Linked DNA regions of Homo sapiens: regions 1 and 3 are each linked to region 2. The links come from fine-mapping of genetic effects on gene expression. A gene starts in region 2. Each other region holds a variant in brackets. All regions are shown on one strand. Distances are between the middles of the regions.

Region 1 (6,453 bases), 38 kb before region 2:
GTGAAGAGAGATTTGAAGGCCTCAATATAGCCTGTCGAGGGTGGAAGTCTTGCTCCCAATGGGCCTTTAGCAGCATGGGTGGGTGTGGGGCCATAGCTGTCTCTGTACTGCTTGGCTAGAGTGGAGTATTTGAGGTCCAAAAGTTTTCTGTCTTTCTAGCCCTTTGGTTAGAAAGAGCAGACTTTTGTTGGAAGTATTTTTTTGTGTTTACCTGTTGTATTTCCAGGTTCCTAGCTTCTCCAGCACAGTCTGGGATGTGTGAGACACAGAGAAAATCCAGTGATGTTACTACCGTATGGTTTCTTGGGTCCCAACGTCTCTAGCTAATCTGCTCCACCTTTTGGAGTTTTCTTATTTGTTTTAGATCAGGGATTTAGTCATATTTAATAGGAGAAATATGGAAAAATACTTCTACTCTATCTTCCTGGAAGTTCCTGTTTATTTTTTATGTCCTTTTCCTCTGGCTAGACCGTAAGAGACTTACGAAACAAACACTTACACATTCTACTAAACTCAATGTCCAAAGTTTGTGAACTTCTTGAATATTGCTTGTTCATTTCCACCCCCAGTCACTGACTGAATCTCCCTGCTGTCTGTCTACAATGCCAATGAGCTTCTGGTTAACTTCTTCTCATGCATGCTTAGGCAACAACTTCCCAGTTTTACTACACTTGCCCATCCCTAGTTTTGTTGTTGCTTAATCCCTTGGCCTAGTGCCACCATACTCCTCCAGCAGAGCAACCAATTCTTACATTATAGGACAGCACATATCCACTAAAAACAGTTCATGCCACACCAACCACATTTCCCTTTGTCAACAAAATTACTTGATAGATAATTCCAGGAATGCCTGATGAAGCTGATTGACAACAAGATATTTGGCAGACTCTCTGCTGCCTATACATACCTTAGCATGTGGAACTCAAGTAATGAGAGGTCCATTTAATTGGATTGAATTGGGCTGGATAGGATTGGATTGAATCCTGTGGGATGGCTAGGCTAAATTAGAAATGAAGACTAGTTTAACAGCAGTATCCAAGGATAGTTGACTAATGAGTTAATTTTACTCTCAAAGACAGTCTTTAGTAGTAAGCTGTAATGCATTATATCAAACTATTTTCCAGTCAATGATTTATAAGTTACTTGAATAAGGATGCTAAAGATGTGCCTTATTGAAATGGCAATTAGCACAAAGTTGGGAATGAAATCTAATTAGTTAAATAACAGAATCACATAAAAAAGGACTTGAATAAATGTAGCATCCTACCATGTTCCTGGATAGAAAGACTGCTATCGTAAAGATATTCATTCTCCTCAGGTTAAATTATAAACTCAATGCAATTCAACAGGATTTTAAAAAACTAGACAAAGTGATTCCAAGTTTACGTGGAAAATAAAATGTGAGGGACCAAACAATATTTGAAAAAGAAAGAGAATAAAATCTCATCCTTCCAGATACCACAATGTATTATAAAGCAATAGTAATTAACATGAGGGCAGAAATGAGCAAGCAAGTGAACAAAATAAGACAGATAGTCACAGGAAACTCATATATTTATAGGTGCTTTGCGTATAATGAAGATGGTCCTTCAAATCAGTTGGGAAAAGATGGGTTATTCAATAAATGGTGTTGGGTAAAATTGGTTATACATTGGTGAGAAATAAAGTGAAACTCCTACTTTGTATCATATGCAAAAAATAGATTCCAGACAGATGAAATATTTAAATGTAAAAAATAAAATTCTAAAACTACTAGAAAAAAAAGAAGAATATTTTTATTCCTTTGAAATAGAAAAGGTCTTACTAAGCAAAACACAGAAGTAATAAATGAATAAATGAAGACAAATATGATAAAAATAAGTTAAAAATATAAGCAATCTTTCTTTGTTTTTTTTTCACCTTTCCTAGAAAAAAATATATAGGCAACTTGTTAAGCAAGGTAGATTACAAGAAAATATTTACAACATTTGACAGGCCACAGATTATTATCCAGCCTCATCTGATAAGAAAACTTCAACATAAAGATATCTGTTTTTTTTCTTATAAGGTTCCTCAAAGTGAGCCAATCACTTCTTAAGCTGAACAAAAAACAAAACAGAAGTGATCTTTTCCAATAATGAAAACAAACATTGACAGAGCAGCTGTAGGATCCTTTCAGGCAAATTATGAAAAGGTGCCCTTTCTCAGAAACCACAGTTACCATTCAGCTTTGTGACCAGAGGTTTGACTGTACCCTAGTCCCTACTAGCAACCCAACCACATAACCAACTTCAAAGGTCCTGAATGACTGTGTTGTACTTAATGGCAGATGATCTATCTCCCATTTTTGTCCTAAGGATTTTCCAAGATAATATATTTCTGCATTTGTTTTGCTTTTACTTCACTCCAAATTGAAATCTATTTGTGGGATAAGACTAAAGAAATGCTTATAGGAAAATTGATAGCACCAAATTCCTATCTTAAAAAATGAAAAAGGTTTCAAATCAATGACCTCAGCTTTTACTTTAAGAAAATAGAAAAAGCAGGATAAGCTAAAGCCAAAGTAAACAGAAGAAAGGAAATTATAAAGATAAGAGCAGAAATCAATGAATAGAAAACAAAAGAAAAAAATCAAACCAAACAGCTGATTCTTTAAGCAGATCTATAAAATTGATAAAACTCTAGCCAGATTGATCAAGTAAAAAAGAGAGAAGACACAAATTACCAGTATTAAGAATGAGAGAGGCAATATCACTACAGATCCTACAGATATAAAAAGTATAAGGGCATACTTTGAATAATTTTATGACTATAAATTAGGCAACTTAGATAAAACAAATTTCTTGAAAGACACAAACAACCAAAGCTCACCTAAAATACTCACAAATTGAATAGTCTTATAGCTATTACAAAATTGAGGCCAGGCGCAGTGGCTCAAGCCTTTAATCCCAGCACTTTGGGAGGGCTAGGAAGGCGGATCACGAGGTCAGGAGTTTGAGACCAGCCTGACTAACATGGTGAAACCCTGTCTCTACTAAAAGTACAAAAATTAGCCAGGCTTGGTGGTGCGTGCCTGTAATCCCATCTACTCAGGAGACTGAGGCAGGAGAATTGCTTGAACCTGGGAGGCAAAGTTGTGGTGAGCCGAGATCGCGCCACTGCACTTCAGCCTGGGCAACAGAACAAGACTCCGTCTCAAAAAAAAAAAAAAAAAAAAAAATTGAAATTATAGTTAAAAGTCTTCCCACAAAGCAAACTCTAGACCCAGATGGCTTCAATGGTAAATTCTACTGGACAATCAAACAGGAAACAGTAATAATTCTCCACAATGTCTTTCATAAAATTGATGCGGAGGAGATACTCTCCAACTCATTCTATGAAACTAGCATTACCCTGATACCAAAATCATACAGAGACAGTGTAGGAAAACAACAGATCAGTATCCTTCATGAACATAAATGAAGTACAATGCAGTCTTATGCATAAATCAGAGCTTCATTGTTCTACAGATAAGGTAATGTAGGATTGTTGGTTGCCCCTCCAGGTCTGTTAAATTCACCTCCTTCCCCAGAGAGCATCCTTCTTAAGGACAGG[G/A]AGCCTCAATATGTCAGTCCTCACAGCACCTCCCTCAGTCTTCAGCACTTACCAGCTCATCACCACAACCGATACCACATTGGATAATTTCATGAATTACTTTAGAGCAAATGCAAGAGAAAAAATGGATTTTTATATAGGAGAAGAAGGAGGAAATTCTTGTGGATTTGGTACAGAATAGGGCCAAGGGAAAATTACAGATGTAAAAAGAAAAGTGTGTGAAATAGTATCCTTAGTGCTCACAAATACAATGATTTCATTGTTTTTAAAAATAAAAAATGACAAATGTCTAATGCTTGGTGGTAATGCTTTATTGAATGTGTGTTATACACTGGTTCCTCATTCCTGAAGTTAGAAATAATACCTTCCTCTTTTCATTTGGTTATGTTTGCTGAAACAAATCAAAGGCTGAGATTGAAACACATGCTACTTCAGGTGGATGACCTTACTACTAAGCTCATCACAACAGCACTTACAGCTGAAGACCCCAGAGTCCTACCTAACTTTTGTCACAACCCAGATTTTGGCCATGTAGTTCTGGGCCTTACCATTAAAGCAGACAGAAGTCAGAGGAATGACTCCTTTCCACTTGAAGTGAGCTGCAGGCTTCTAGGAAAGGCAAGATGCACATTTCCCTCCTGTGGAGCATAAAGCCTTTGTAATTCAGGACTTAGGACCCATATGGATTTGAAATATTATGACATTGGAGCTGGAGTGGTTGGGGACAACACCAGTAGTGTTATAGGCCATGGAATGTCAAAAGAACATGGAACCCTGTTAAAATCATTAAACATCAAAACTCTCCCCTCCTCTGGTGATATGGTTTGGCTGTGTCCCCATCCAAATCTCATCTTGAACTCCCATGTGTTGTGGGAGGCACCCAGTGGGAGGTAATTGAATCATGGGGGCAGGTCTTTCCCATGCTGTTTTCACGATACTGAATAAGTCTCACAAGATCTGATGGTTTTATAAAGGGGAGCTTCCCTGCACAAGCTCTCTTCTCTTGTCTGCCACCATGTGAGACATGCCTTTCACCTTCCGCCATGATTGTGAGGCCTCCCCAACCATGTGGAACTTTTAAGTTCATTAAACCTCTTCCTTTTGTAAATTGCTCAGTCTCAAATATGTCTTTATCAGCAACGTGAAAACAGACTATCTGATTTTCTGTGGGATGTGGATTATGACCATGGACAGAGCATAACTGGGACAGAGCTGGAAAAAATATTAATTAGGTGCTTAAAAATATTTGTTAGAACTATCTTCATGAATGAGAATCAATCCTGTTTCCATGGTGATTCACCAGGCATCAATTCCAAGCATCCATGAATCAGAAAAGTCCTATCTTCTCTTAGTTATCATCCAGGACTCCAAGGAACCATAATTAGCCAACCTGTTCACATTTCCTTTTCATTCACTAGCCTCGAAGTTTCCAGGGGACAGGGACTCTGTCCTATTCATTTCTGTAACCTTACCACCTGACCCAGAATAGCTGTTCCCTGAAGATTTGGTGGATTATAAATGTGGATGTCTTATTTCTTTGAAAGTGTGAGCTTCAGGTACTGATCACGTTATTCCAATTATCAATTTAGTATCTTTCTTCACCATTAAACTGTGAAATTCTTGAGGGAAGAACCTATGACTGATTTATCTCTGTAAACTCATGCCACCAGTATTCAAAATCACACCTAGCACATAGTAAACACTCAATGTTTGTTGAATGACTGAAGGAATGGATGAAAATGAACCTCCTTGCTTCTGACCAGTGGATGAGTTGCTTGGCCGTGTTCCTACAGCCTAGAGCTCATCCCCTAAAGCATCTGAAGTTACCCATTAGTGCAATGGTTCTTGAACGCTGGTGTTGATCAGAATCATCTGGATGCCCAGGTTCTCTGAAATAAGATAGGGTCTAGGCATTTGTATTTTTACCAAGGAGGTGTGATGGAGTCAGATGCAAGAAGGCTAGTTGAAGAAACCACATGAGAGTTTAGTGTAGTGTATTAGAAGACTGGTTTGGCTCTGTCGCTAGTGGCTACATCATCTTGCTCAAGTCATGCCAGTCTCAGGACCTCATTCAGTCTCTTCAGCTGTAATATGGGTGGGTTGCACCACATAACCAGAAAGATCCCTTCCAGCTCTACCCACTTACAACATGGTCAAATTTGGTCTGATTTTTTAAATCGTAGTACAATATATATGACATAAAATTCACCATTTTAGCCACTTTAAATGTACAATTCTGTAGCATTAACTACATTCACATTGTTGTGCAACCATCACTACCGTCTACTTCCAGAACTCTTCATCTTGCAAAACTGAACCTCTGTTGTCATTAGTCACTAACTATTCCTCTCCCCCCCTCCTTCTAGGCCCTGGCAATCACCATTCTACTTTCTGTCGCTATGAATTTGACTACTCTAGGTAACTTATATAAGTGGAATCACAGCATTTGCCCTATTATGACTGGTTTAGTTGACTTAGCACAACCTCCTAAGGCTCAACCACATTTTAGCATGTGTCAGAATTTTCTTTGTTTTTAAGGCTGAATAATATTCTGTTGTATCTGTAAATAACATCTTTATTCATTTGTCCATCAACAGACTGTTGAGTTCCTCCCATCTTTTGACTATTGTGAAAAATGCTGCTATGAACCTGAGTGTACAGACATCTGGTTGAGTACTGCTTTCAATTCATTGTTTATATGGATCATATGGTAATTTTATGTTTAATTTTTTTGGAACTGCTACATTGTTTTCCACAGTGTACATCATTTTACATTTCCATCAGCAATGCACAAAGGTTCCAATTTCTCCACATTCTTACCAACATTTTTTATTTTCTGTTTCTTATTTATTTGTTTATTTATTCTGAGACAGAGTCTCA
Region 2 (6,453 bases):
GCATAAAGAATTCTAAGATGTACTGATCAAGATTCCCAATTTTCTAACTATCTATTAATATATGGACGAGGTAAGAAGAAAGTTGCAAGAAAAAAATTTGTTTGACTTGACGGTTGTGTGGTTATTTGCCACACTCCCCCAGATCCACTCTGAGTCCCAGGATGCTGATTTTAGGGGCTACATTGCCTAGACTGTCCATTATTCCCTCTTCCCATCTGGTTCAGTCACTGGGAAGCACTGGTAGGAGGTCAGAGTGGGAGAAGGAGGTTAGGATACTTTCTGCCCCTGCTGTCCTACTGCTTTGCTGAACTTCTAGCAGTGGCTGAGCCATCAACCTGCAGCTCTCAATTCCAGCTGTCTGTAGCACTCAAGTGGTATTGTTTATTCTTTTGATCCTTCTAGCTGTTAAGGAAGAAAAAAATAATTTTTTCCTCAATGCTCATAAGTTCTTGGAATGGACCCCTGTAACAAAAGACAGATTAACACGAGAAAAGTTTATTAACGTACATATTTTATACGTACATAGGAGCTATCCAGGGAATGAATAATTCTTAAAAAGGTGACTTTGAATTCCAGCTCATATAGCATCTTCAACAAAGTTCAGTAACATTTTAGAGATATGACAAGACAAAGAAAATGAACTTTGAGCCTCTAGGGACAGTGACTTGTAGGAAGGCAAAAGGAATAAATGGAGGTAAAGGCTGGTTAGTAATACTTGTTAATGAAGATTCCTCTGGTGCCATCTCCAGGTCCACAAGGATTTAAATTTGTCTTCAGTGGTGAACCTTTGTTCACCCTGGCAGAAGGTGTGGAGGGGGGTGCAGATCCGTTTTGTCTTTGTAAGTCTATATCCTGCTTTTAGACAAATAAAGGGAGGGAAAAGAGCTTTCCTTCATCTGCTTCTTAATTGCCTTCAGCTCAACAATCCTTATGCAAAAGAGGTACATTTTAGGGTGTCAAATTCTGGTCTCCCACAAAGCATAGGGATGACAGACCACCTCACCATCCCTGTTGCTTCTTTTAAGCCTGCTCACCCCTCCAAAAATATTTTCATTCTATACTGTCTCTTCAAAATCTCAGCGGAGGGTGCCCTCTGTTATCCTGCCCTCTGTGTCAGTATAAGCCAAAGGTTTGAATCCTGGCTCTGCAACTATCTACCTCTGTGCCTCTCCTTGTTTATGAAATTACAGGGCTGGAGACAAAGATCACAATGTGAAGACAAAATTGGAGAGCGGTCCTAATCAGCCAGAGCAAAATTTCTGGCTCTTGCTCTTCCCCATCCTGGGTTGAATCATAGGAACAGGTGGCAAGATGCCAGGGTCAGGAGATTCCAGAAGTGGCAGCAAGCTCAGTGTTACCAGGTCAGGGATGACCTGTCTTATTATTGAAATCTCAGAGATATGCTCCAATTCCGGCCCAGAGACACATTGAGAGACAACTGGGGAACTTGCTATGTTCCTGAACAGGCAATGAGCTGTCTTCCAAGAAAAAACCTGAGACCCTTCAAGTCTCAGGTCTTACTTAGCACATATACCAGGTCTTACACAGGACACATGGTTACAACTGACTGAAATCTGGGCTGGGTGTAGGAGCTCACACCTGTAATCCCAGCCCTTCAGGAGGCTGAGGCAGGCAGATTGCCTGAGCCCAGGAGTTCGAGACCAGCCCGGGCAACATGACAAAACCCCATCTCTACAAAAAATAGTCAGGCATGGTGGCATGCACCTGTAGTCTCAGCTACTTGGGAGGCTGAGATGAGAGGATTGCTTGAGGTTGAGACTGCAGTGAAGCATGATCATGCCACCGCACTCCAGCCTAGGCAACAGAGCAAGATCTTGTCGCAAAAGAAAGCAAAAACACAACATAACACAACAACAACAACAACAACAACAACAGCAAAAAAGCCAACTTCTTGAAATCTGGAAAGGACACCTGGACTGCCCTGAGCATTTGATTGTTGTTGGCTCTAGCAGTGGATGCATCCTTCAACCTCTGGCACTCTGCAGGGCTCAGACTGTTCTGTTCTGTTTGTTACCTGTGGAGTGCCTGCCAGACCCTGCTCTAGCTGCTTTAGGTCCATTTACCCTCATAGACCCCCAGTCTTGTTATTCATATTTCATATTTGGGAAATGGAAACTTAGAAACTTGCCAAGTCCACAGCATGAGATCCTGCCTCCGGTGTCTGCTGGATTCCAGAAAGTGCCAGGGGCCAACTTAGATGACACCATGTTCTCTGCACAATCTTAGGAATGCTCCTAGTCTGATGTCCCCATTGCAAAATTTACATTATCTTTTAACAAAACGTCTTTCCAAGGAGGGGCATTTAAAATAACTGAGGTTCTTCTTGCTAAGGACGTTCCTGACACAAGAGATAATTTAGCATTTCCTTTTCATTAAAAAGTTTGAAATCCTGTAATTTGTGATAATGTGGATGAACCTAGAGGATGTTAAGTGAAATAAGCCACACACAGATAGACAAATACCACGTGATCTCACTCTTATGTGGAATTTTTTTTTAAATAAGTTGCTTAGCCGGGCATGATGGCACACACCTGTAATCCTAGCTACTCAGGAGGCTGAGGTGGGAGGATGGCTTGAACTCAGAAGGTGGAGGTAGCAGTGAGCTGAGACTGTGCCAGTGCACTCCGGTCTGGGTGACAGAATGAAACCCAATTTAAAAAAAAAAAAAAAGTTGCTATCTTAGAAAAAGACAGTAGAGCAGTGGTTACCAGAGACTGGGGAGGAAAGAGAGGAGGTGAGAATGGGCAGCAGTTGATCAACGGGTACAAAGTTACCATGAGATAGGAGAAACAAGTGCTGGTGCTCTGCTCCAAGTAGGGTGACGGTAGTTAATAATGAATTCTGTATATATAAATAGCTAGAAGAGAGGGTTTTCAATATCATTATTATTTCAAAAGAAATGATAAATGTTTCAGAGGATGGATATGTAATTACCCTGATTTGATCATTGCACAATGTATACATGTAGCAAAACATCACATTGTGTCCCATAAATATATACAATTATTATGTGAATTAAATAAAAAAAAATTTTAAAGTCTTATCTAAATGAAATTTCTAACCAGATTCTGAATCCATGATACCACTGAAACCAGCACACATGATCGCAGTAAAACCTCATTATACTTCCTCCACTATCACCAATACCCTTTATTCTCTGGAACATGAAACATTCTGTTGTGCTCATATCATGCAAATTATCACTAGTAGGAGAGCAGAGAGTGGAAATGTTCCAGGTATAAAGACCCACAAGATAAAGAAGCTCAGAGTCGTTAGAAACAGGAGCAGATGTACAGGGTTTGCCTGACTCACACTCAAGGTTGCATAAGCAAGATTTCAAAATTAATCCTATTCTGGAGACCTCAACCCAATGTACAATGTTCCTGACTGGAAAAGAAGAACTATATTTTTCTGATTTTTTTTTTCAAATCTTTACCATTAGTTGCCCTGTATCTCCGCCTTCACTTTCTGCAGGAAACTTTATTTCCTACTTCTGCATGCCAAGTTTCTACCTCTAGATCTGTTTGGTTCAGTTGCTGAGAAGCCTGACATACCAGGACTGCCTGAGACAAGCCACAAGCTGGTGAGTTGTAGGCATTTTTTCCATTACTTTCTGATTCATAGGCTCAACGCACCTCAAAGCTGGAAATGCCGGGTCTGGGTACACCCTGGGGAACTGCAAAGCCTGCACACTTGGGGGGAATGATCAAGATGAGAGGCAGGGGTGGGGATGGCATGTGCACCAGGAGATGTTAGAGAAACCCTGAGGAAGAGCAGCGTGCAGCAGGTGATGGGGGAGAGTGGGCAGCAAGCGAGGCCAGGACAGCCACTCTGCTCAGTCACCAGTCCACACACCCAGGGGCTCACTCTGCCCCTCTGAGCACCCAAGGACGTTAAAGAGCTGGAACTGTTAGTCTAAATATAGGACCATCCAAGCTCTGAACCAAAATGTGTCCCTTGCCTCAACTCAGGAGATCCACAGAGGCAGAAGTAAGGAATTTATTTTCTGAAAGATAGATTTCTATCAGTTCTGGGTGACATGTTCTGACACTTGAAATGACACCTAGGACAGCACATTTCAGGCATCTTGCTCATTGTTCACTGTAGTAGAAGCTACATGCTAGCCAGTTGTAAAAATGAAATTAAGTAATGTGTGCACAGCATTTAACATAGCATCTGAGCTTCAGGAGCACTCAATTAATGACCACAGTTGTGATTCTTTAGGCAGATGCATTTTTTTCCAACTTTGATCAGAGGTCTTATTTAGCTTCTCCAGATTTCAAGAATCTGGCTCAGTGATATGAAATACAAGACTTGTGAAAAGTGTCAATTGCAAGAGAAATGGAAGGATAAAGTATACAGGTGGGTGGAAAAGAAATTCACAGTCACTGCCAGAAAAAAAATTCTTGAGAATCAAGTCCTGATGATGTTAGGGCTTATAGTTCTTATTATAAAGAGTTTTATGTACTCATTCAGTGAACATTTATTGGTGCCTCCTTTAGCCAGGTACTATCATAAGAGCTGAAAATAGAAGCATAATCCAGTCCTTGATCTTGAGGAACATGCTGTGTGTAGCAGATAACATAATAAGTGCTTATCTAGATGCATGCAGTGTTATGTGATAAGAGTAATATGACAGAGGATACAGATTAGGCTTCACAGAGAAGGGGGATTTGAGCAGGAGGTATTGAAGGGTGAATAGAAGCTCACCAATCATTTTGGGCAGAGGGGCAAGGACCTGCAAAACCACTGAAGCATGAAGGAAATGGTGAGTTTAGGGAAAATGAAGAGAAGATGGCTGTGACTGAAGCACAGGATTTGGGATTGGAGAAGGGACTGGAGGTGAGGCTGAAAAGAGGCAAACTCAGAAAAGATGTTGTGCTGGGCAGTCTGGACATTATCTTTGAAGCCCACCACATATAAGTCATAGGGCTACTGGAGGTTTTAAGCTAAGAGTGACTATTCAATTTCAACTTAAGAGAAGATAGGTTGAGAGGGAACATGGCTTGAGATGAGCCATGAGCAAAGGAAAGACTACAACAAAGCCAGGAGTGAGGAGTGTGTGAAGCAAGAAAGTGACAGTTGAAAGCAGTGCAGAGGGGATGAATCTGAGAGGCATCTATGAGGTGGAACTCAAATGACATGATAATAATACAGGGCATTTCTCTGTGTCAGATGCTGTCCTAAGTCCTTACTCCATTGATCTTCACAGCAACTCAGCATAGTTAATATTTTATGCATAAAGAAATCGGCACTTGAAGGAGTAATTGGCCCCAGATTACACTGCCTATAAGGATTCAAATCCAGGTTTGTTTGGCTCCAAAAACTGGCTCCTAATTTTCAGAAGGAGAAGCAACCCAGGGCAATGCCCAATTTTGCTTCTTAGGCAATGGAGGAATCCACAATCGGAAGGAGTTTTCAGCAGTGCCCCATTTGGGGTGGGTTGAATTTGAGGTCCCTGCATGATACCCACTTTGCTCACTTCAGTGCCTAAAACTGAGTATGGTTCATAGTAGGTGTTCAATAAGTGTTGATGCAGTGAATACATGCATGGGGAGATATGCATCAGGCAATGGGAAATTCAACTCTAAGGCTTAGGGGAAAGCTGGAGCTTGAAGACAGAGCTTTAGAAAACAGTAGCATAGAAGGGAGTAGGAACCATGAGTTTAGACAATACAATTCAGGAAGAACTTTGTAGCAAGGATAAAGAGGCAAAAAATTAAAGAGGTGAGAGCTAAGTGTGGTGCCTGGGGAATCTTAAGGTGTGGGCACGGGGAGGAGATGCCAGCAAAGAACATGAATAAAAAGCGGTAGCACAGCCCCTCCCATCTGGAAGCCAAAAAGAATTGTAAATGGAGGAAGTTAGCAGAAGGATCAAATACTTGAAGAGGGTGGAATTGGAATAAAACCAGGGCATTTGAAAAATTGGGTTGTCACTGCAATCTTAACAAGAGAAGTTTTGGCAGGATGATGGAGGCAGAAAGCTGAGAGAATCATCAGTTAGAACGTTTTTGACTTCAGAGAACAGAAAATGCAGTTCATAATGGCTTTAAAACAGGGGCTTGTTTTTCTCCCAGCAATTTGAGAGGCCAAGGCGGGTGCATCAGGAGGTCAAGAGACCGAGACCATCCTGGCCAACATGGTGAATCCCCATCTCTACTAAAAATACAAAAATTAGCGGGGCATGGTGGTGCACGCCTATAGTCCCATCTACTCAGGAGGCTGAGGCAGGAGAATCACTTGAACCCAGGAGGTGGAGGTTGCAGTGAGCTGAGATCATGGCCACTGCACTATAGCCTGGAGACACAGCGAGACTCCGTCTCCAAAAAAAAAAAAAAAAGAAGGCAGAAGGTGAATAGTTCAAGGGTGGGTTTAGGACTCAGTGATAATAGGATTCTGCCTGGCTTCTCATGGTTCTCTAGGTCTTCCATT
Region 3 (6,453 bases), 65 kb after region 2:
TTCTATCTCTAGTGAACAGAAGTCTAACTTTAGTCACCAGAACTGAGAGTCAATTCAATCAATTCCCAGATTTGACATAGTTTATAGACCTAGAACCCCTTGAATGAAAGGTAAGCTGGCTCCCCTTGAGGAAGGACCCTGTTACATTTCCGGCATTTTATTCTGATAATCTTTTTTCCCAGCCTTCCCCAAAGCAACTTAGGGCCATTTACCAGGGAAAGCCATGGAGGAAAAGGAAATAATTAGGCTATTTGGAGATTCCAGGACACTGGCTCTACGCTGACACCAGTTCTAAGAGACCCAAAATATCTTTGTGGTCTACCAGCCAAAGTAGGGCTTCATAGAGGTCAGGGGTCACTAGAGTTTGAGCTCAGGTCTGTTTCACTGTGAGTCTAGAGGGTCCCTGAACTTATCCTATAGTTATTCCCCCAGTTCCAGAATGCAGAATTGAGCTGAGAGCAGTGGCTCATGCTTGTAGTCCCAACACTCTGGGAGGCGAAGGTGAGAGGATCACTTGAGCCAAGCGGTTTGAGACCAGCCTGGGAAATATAGTGAGACCCCATCTTTTAAAAAGACAAAGAAAAATAAAGAAAATTGACATGGAAAAATAATATAAAATGTGAATAATCTCACATCTACTAAAGAAATCCAATCTGTAATTAGAACTCCTCCCACAGAGAACTATAAGCCCAGTGCCCCCATCAACTGGAGAAACAGAAAGAAACAATCTTCTTAACAGAAAGCATAATTGGAATAGAGATACTCTGCATCGGGGAAGAATCCCCATATTGATTCTCTGATCCATAGAGTGAAGGCCAAGTGGAAGCCTTTGGAACTCCCTCTACCTGCCAAGATACTAAACAAAACAACACTGCACGTCTGGAGGAATTGTAGCAAGAACTTGAAAGATGAAGGATGATGATGTCCACCTCTCTCCATTCAGCTCACCTATCTGGTTTGTGCAGAAGACAAATAGGTGTTGGAAAATGACAGTGGACCAGTGTAAACTTAATCAGGCGGGGGCTCCAGCTGCAGCTGCAGGATCAGGTGTTGTTTCATTTCTGCAGCTAATCAACCCTTCTCCTGGCACCTGGTGTGCAGATGGCAATTTTTCTTTTCTATTATCTGTTAGTAAAGACTATCAGAAGCTGTTTATTTTCAGTTGGCAAGGTCAGCAATACACTCCAAGGGAAGAGCAGTCTGTCTCAGATCTTACCGATGCCTGGGGATAGGGAGGGAGTGGCCCCCTCACCGTCTCCAAGGCCTAGTCCTCTGCTCCTGCTACTGGCAGCAAATCCACGCAGGTCTGCAACAACCTCAATTCCTGCCTCCTCAGAAGAAAGAATTCAATTGAGGGACATAAGACAGAAGGAGAGACTGAGGCAAGTTTTAGCACAGGAGTAAAAGTTTATTTAAAAGCTTTAGAATAGGAACAAAAGGAAGGAAAGTACACTTGGAAGAGGGCCAAGTGGACGACTTAAAAAGCAAGTGCGTGGTTTGACCTTTTGACTTGGGGTTTTATACGTCAGCATGCTTTCGGGGTCTTGCGTTATTTCTCCCCTGGTTCTTCCCTTGGGGTGGGCTGTCCCATGTGCCTGCCTGAGCCCACTGGCTCAACTCCTGAGATCTTATAGGGAAACTACTGCTCACCAGTTTCGAGTGTTTTCTATCTATTAGGAGCCGGCTTTTCCCTGTTGCCGGGTGTGACCAATTATTACTTTAGAAAGACAGTCAACAACCGCCAGACCATCACCTGATGGTCACCTGACACTCCTGGTGTGTGGGGTATGGGGAGCCCTCTCCTGCCCTGCTCTTTCTGACTAGCTACCCACTATAACACTCCCAGAGGGACCTGCACATTTTGTGCTCTTTGCAAGACAGTGCCTGCCCAGCACCTGTAGGCCTGCTCACCCCTTCAGGGTCATGATTTTTGCTTTTTACCGCAGGTACCCATAAGCAAAACATGGCATTGTTCACCATGCTTTTACATTATTCACATAATTTTAAGTTATTTACACAACAATGTAAAACCATGGTGAACCATGCCACATGTTGCTTATGGGTACCTGTGGTAAAAATCCTGCTACTAGCTCATTTTGCAGTGTCTATAATGACAGGTAATGCTCCATTCACTCCTTTATGACACTTGCAAAAACTGAGAACATAACGCCTCCCAGTTAAGCAGGCATCTGGGCAATGTGAGGAGAACAGAAATAGACCACGCTGCATTTATCTCTCTTGATGACAGGCATTGAGATTTCCACTTTTTCTGGTTTCTTATTATGTCTCTACTGGGCATTCTTACATACATCTTGCACGCCATGGAAAGTTTCTCTAGGGCAGTGGTTCACAAACTTTTTGGATACAGAATACTTTTATGTGCTTGAAAACTGAGGACCCCATACAGCTTTAGTTTATGTGGGTGTAAGGTTCTAGCCCAAACTGAAGTCCGAAGGGAGTTGGTGGGTGGGTGAGGGGTAGCTGAAAAAACACCCGAGGAATCATAGGCAGTTTGAACATGGCCTTATCCTCTCTCTGGGCACGAGCCATATGTCCAGTGTCAGCAGGGTAATTATACCTTTTACAGACAATAGAGGCTCTGAAGCAATCACGAGCTCACGTGAGTGGTCACCTAATGCACCTCAAGTGGCATGGTTCATAATGTGCGGAGTCGTGTGCCTACGCTCCAAACCCACTGAGTCATGGTGCACCAAAAAGTGGCCTCAGCCTGCTCCTGACTAAAGCGCAGCCATCTTCCTTACACTCCACCCCTAGGCCAGGGGCATCCTCCAGGTAGGGACATGTGCCCGTAGGGTGGAGCCCTGAATCCATAATCCACAGCAACAATACGGAGAGCAACAGCTCACGACTAGGATTCCAGCTATGCTACTTATGACTATCAGGGCCCAGCGTAGGCCAGAGCCCAGGGATGTCTACCATCTCTGCAGGGGGTCATCAGTAAGGCTCTTGACTACCTTAATCTCCTGTGAGACCCCTTGCAGGGCTGCTGTTATGTTCTGCCAATTGTCAGGGATAAAGGTACAACATTGTGTTCCTAAAAGGGCACAGGTGCCTCCTTAGGCAGCAGTTACTATGTCTAAGACCATTCGGTTTCGCAACACCAC[C/T]TTTCTGATCTGATCAACCTCATCCATTAATGGGAAGAGGGCCACTCAGGTGTAATTCAGAGCCTGAGCAGCATGCTCTGCAAGAGCAGTAACTTGGCTTCTACAGTTGTGACACACACTCCAGGGCTAGTGCCTGTCAAGGGGTAAAACCACCAGGGTGCTCATTACACTTGCAAAAACCGAGAGTGTAGCACCTCCCAGTTATGCAGGCATCTGGGCAATGTGAGAACAGTGGCAGGTACATGAGGCCACCCTCAGGTATAATGTCCAGTCCAGTTTGCTTATAGGTAAGGCCACCCTGTGTCCCCACAGACCCATAAACTCCCAGGGGGCACACAGTCCATCGAGGCCCCTTGGTGGGGCCGCGTCTTCCACCATACCTTTGGTGTGGTGACATGTATTATGCTTACACACACTGTGACGGGTACCCATCCCACAGTGCTATTACCCCAGTGTTGCTATATGCACCACAGTGCCTGGGCCAGGGGTACTGCACGTTACCTCACTAGCCAGCCCCACCCATCATAAATGCTATGGGCCAGCCAGGGAATGGCTGTGCTGTGGGTCTTGTGGCATCCTTTGTCCAAAACTTGCCACGTTGCGTTCCAGGCATCAGCCATGGGACCCCAAGTCTCCAGCCATGTCTGGTTCTCTGCAGATGCTGAATGTATGTGCTAAGGCAAGCCATCTGCAGCTGCTAGAAGGGCGGTGCAGATCCAACAGTTGGAAACATTGGTCACTTCAGTGTAGGTGTGGGCCCAGTCCACAATGCAGTTGGAGCATGTTAACCTACAGTTGGAATGACAGAGTAGGCATAGGTACTAACAGAGGAAAATCACATCCCTCAGGTAAAATACAGGCTAACCTTTCATCCCTGGATAACAATGCAGCCCCCAAGGGGTTCTGCCCTGGGCAATAGTACCACACCTTTTCAGCTCCCCATGGTTCCTTTGGGTCCTGTATTCATGCGAAAGTCACAGGGGAGCTTGTAGTAGGCCACACAGACAGTACATTTGAACCCTGGAGGAAAGTTTCTTCCCTGGCCGTTTTCCTACAAACAGTTAACTTCGGGGACCATTCATTGAACACCCAAAGAGTGACATACAAGTCATACTGTAGGCCCTCCCCACAGGGAGCTACGATGGACAACCACCAGCAGCCGGGGGCTTGGAGGGGCTATGGCCACAGCCAGGTTTTCTGTTCCCCTGCCTTCAGGGACGTTGGGGCAGGCAACAACAGGTTACTGTTCATCCCCATACCTGGTCAGAGGCGGTTACCCTTGGTGTGTATCTGCAACTGAATAGGGGTGGTGGCCCATGTAACAAAGCCTCCACCTGGGCTGGGCTGCTTTTCCATGGCCATTCATTCAAGGTTTGGAGCATCAGGTCCAGCCTGGAACTTCAGCCCTGCAAAGACAGGAGTGTGACATGCAAGTAAAACCCATTCTTCAAGAGCTCGCTATATCACTCAATCATACCCACAGCTTGCAAGTTGTGCGGTACATGGAATCCCTACTTTATGTCCATTGTTGTGCCTGTTGTCCAGTAAAATGTGTCCCCCATCACTCTCAATGACCAAAGGGCAACCATATAGAGCACATAAGTGTTGCAGGGTCTGGATGGTGTGCTGTTGGTTGGCCACCCTGCAAGGATAGGCAAACAACAGGCCTGTGGCTGTGTCCACAGCTGTTAGCGCATGAGTATACCCTTGTGACTTCGGCAGCAGCCCAATGTAGTCTACTTGCCACCTGGTCAAGGGCACTTGCCCTGTTGTCACTTGTGTAGCACTGGACAGCTGCCTCCATTTAGGGTATGCCTGAGCACATGCCGGGCATTTCTGACAAGCCTCCCAAATGTCTTGCATGGGCAGAGACAGACCCCAACATTTATTGACTTGTTGCATCAGTTTACCCCCTGCATGTCCCAGTTTCCGGTGTAGCTACAAGGCCACATCTCATGTAGATGCCAACTCTAACCATCGGACCTTGGCCAAGGCTTCTGCCTCGTCATTGCTGGGGGTGGCCAGAGGCATATGGCCTGACAAATGATAAATAGTTACATCTTTGCAATGACCCATTTCCCAGAGGTCTTGCTACATGGGTTGGTGGCCCCAAATGGGTTGGTGGCCAACTAGCCAATTCTGTATTTTCCAAGTAGTTAAACACAAAGTTAGGCCTCCATAGACTGCCCAGCTATCGGTACGGATTACCATAGGTGTCTCCGCCTTGTTGATCACCATCCATACTGCTTTAAATTCAGCCCATTGACTACTTTGTCCACATCTGGTTTCAAACCATATGGTTTTGGTACTAAGTTGGACTGCAACACTGGTCCAAGCAGGAGTAGCACCTCGACTAGACCCATCTGTGTGCCATGCCCCATCAGGAATAGAGGGACGCCCTTCCTTAAATGGCAGTGGCTCAGGGTCAAGGGGTGCCTCAGGCCCCATGGCCTTCTCTTGCATTAGGACTGCAGGTCCCAAGACCTCTTGCAACTCTGCTGCTAATGGGCTTGTGCTCAGCGTACTCTGTTGCTCCAAGTAAGTGCCTCACTTTGCCAAAGTGGATGTCTGCACCATCCCAGTCTGGGGGGTCATTACACATGAATGCACCCATCCCGCTGTCAGGTAAGTCATCCACACTGTGACTGTAGCCCATCCTATCACTTCTCACAAGCCTGAAGGGCAGCATATACAGCTGCTAGCTATTTCTCTATCAAGGAATACCAGAGCTCAGCTCCTTTCCATAGTTGGGACCAAAAGCCTCCTGGCATTCTCAGGCACTCTGTGTGCTGCCACAGGCCCAAACTAAAACCATCTGTGGTCACATGCATATCCAGTTCAAATGGGCACCCCTTGTCAAATACCCACAGGGCTCGTGCCTGCTGAATAGCCCACTTGGCTGCCAGGAAGCCAGTCTCAGCCACATCAGCCCAATCCCAGATTGCTCCCTTCTTTGTTAACTGATACAATGGTTTTATCATTTGAGCTAAATGAGGCAGGAATGTCCACCAATATCCCAGGAGGCTCACAAAAGTTTGCAGCTGCCTCACCGTGGTGGGCCAGGGATATGCCTAAATTTTGTCAATGATAGCCTCTTGTATGGCCTTCATCTTACCCGACCAGATAACTCCCAAGAATTTAGCAGGTAATCCAGGCCCTCGGACCTTGGATTTGTTGATGGCCCAACTGCATGCTGCCAAATGTTGCCACAAGAGGGGTGCCACTGCTTCTAAATCTGCAAGAGAATCAGAGGTTAACATAATATCATCAACGTAATGGAACAAGTGGACTCCCTTTGGACATTTTCAGGCTGTTAAATCCATGGCAA

Evidence for each region. PIP is the estimated chance that this variant, and not a neighbour inherited with it, causes the effect. A credible set is the group of variants that fine-mapping cannot tell apart.
Region 1: its variant is the best candidate, but not a certain one, in a credible set for the expression of CCR2 in whole blood (INTERVAL, PIP 0.81).
Region 3: its variant is the best candidate, but not a certain one, in a credible set for the expression of CCR2 in whole blood (INTERVAL, PIP 0.52).

What each region holds. Positions count from the first base shown.
Region 1 is chr3:46,312,520-46,318,972 of GRCh38, forward strand. No RefSeq gene overlaps it. Among named protein-coding and RNA genes, the nearest start is that of CCR2, 38 kb to the right of the region's middle. The variant G/A (reference allele first, on the strand shown) is at 3,574.
Region 2 is chr3:46,350,574-46,357,026 of GRCh38, forward strand. It overlaps CCR2 (C-C motif chemokine receptor 2), which reads left to right and starts at 3,538. Exons shown (of 2, transcript NM_001123396.4): 1 at 3,538-3,604.
Region 3 is chr3:46,415,133-46,421,585 of GRCh38, forward strand. It overlaps LINC02009 (long intergenic non-protein coding RNA 2009), which reads right to left. Exons shown (of 5, transcript NR_151704.1): 3 at 6,241-6,360; 4 at 4,385-4,531; 5 at 1,384-3,914. Among named protein-coding and RNA genes, the nearest start is that of LINC02009, 5.3 kb to the right of the region's middle. The variant C/T (reference allele first, on the strand shown) is at 3,126.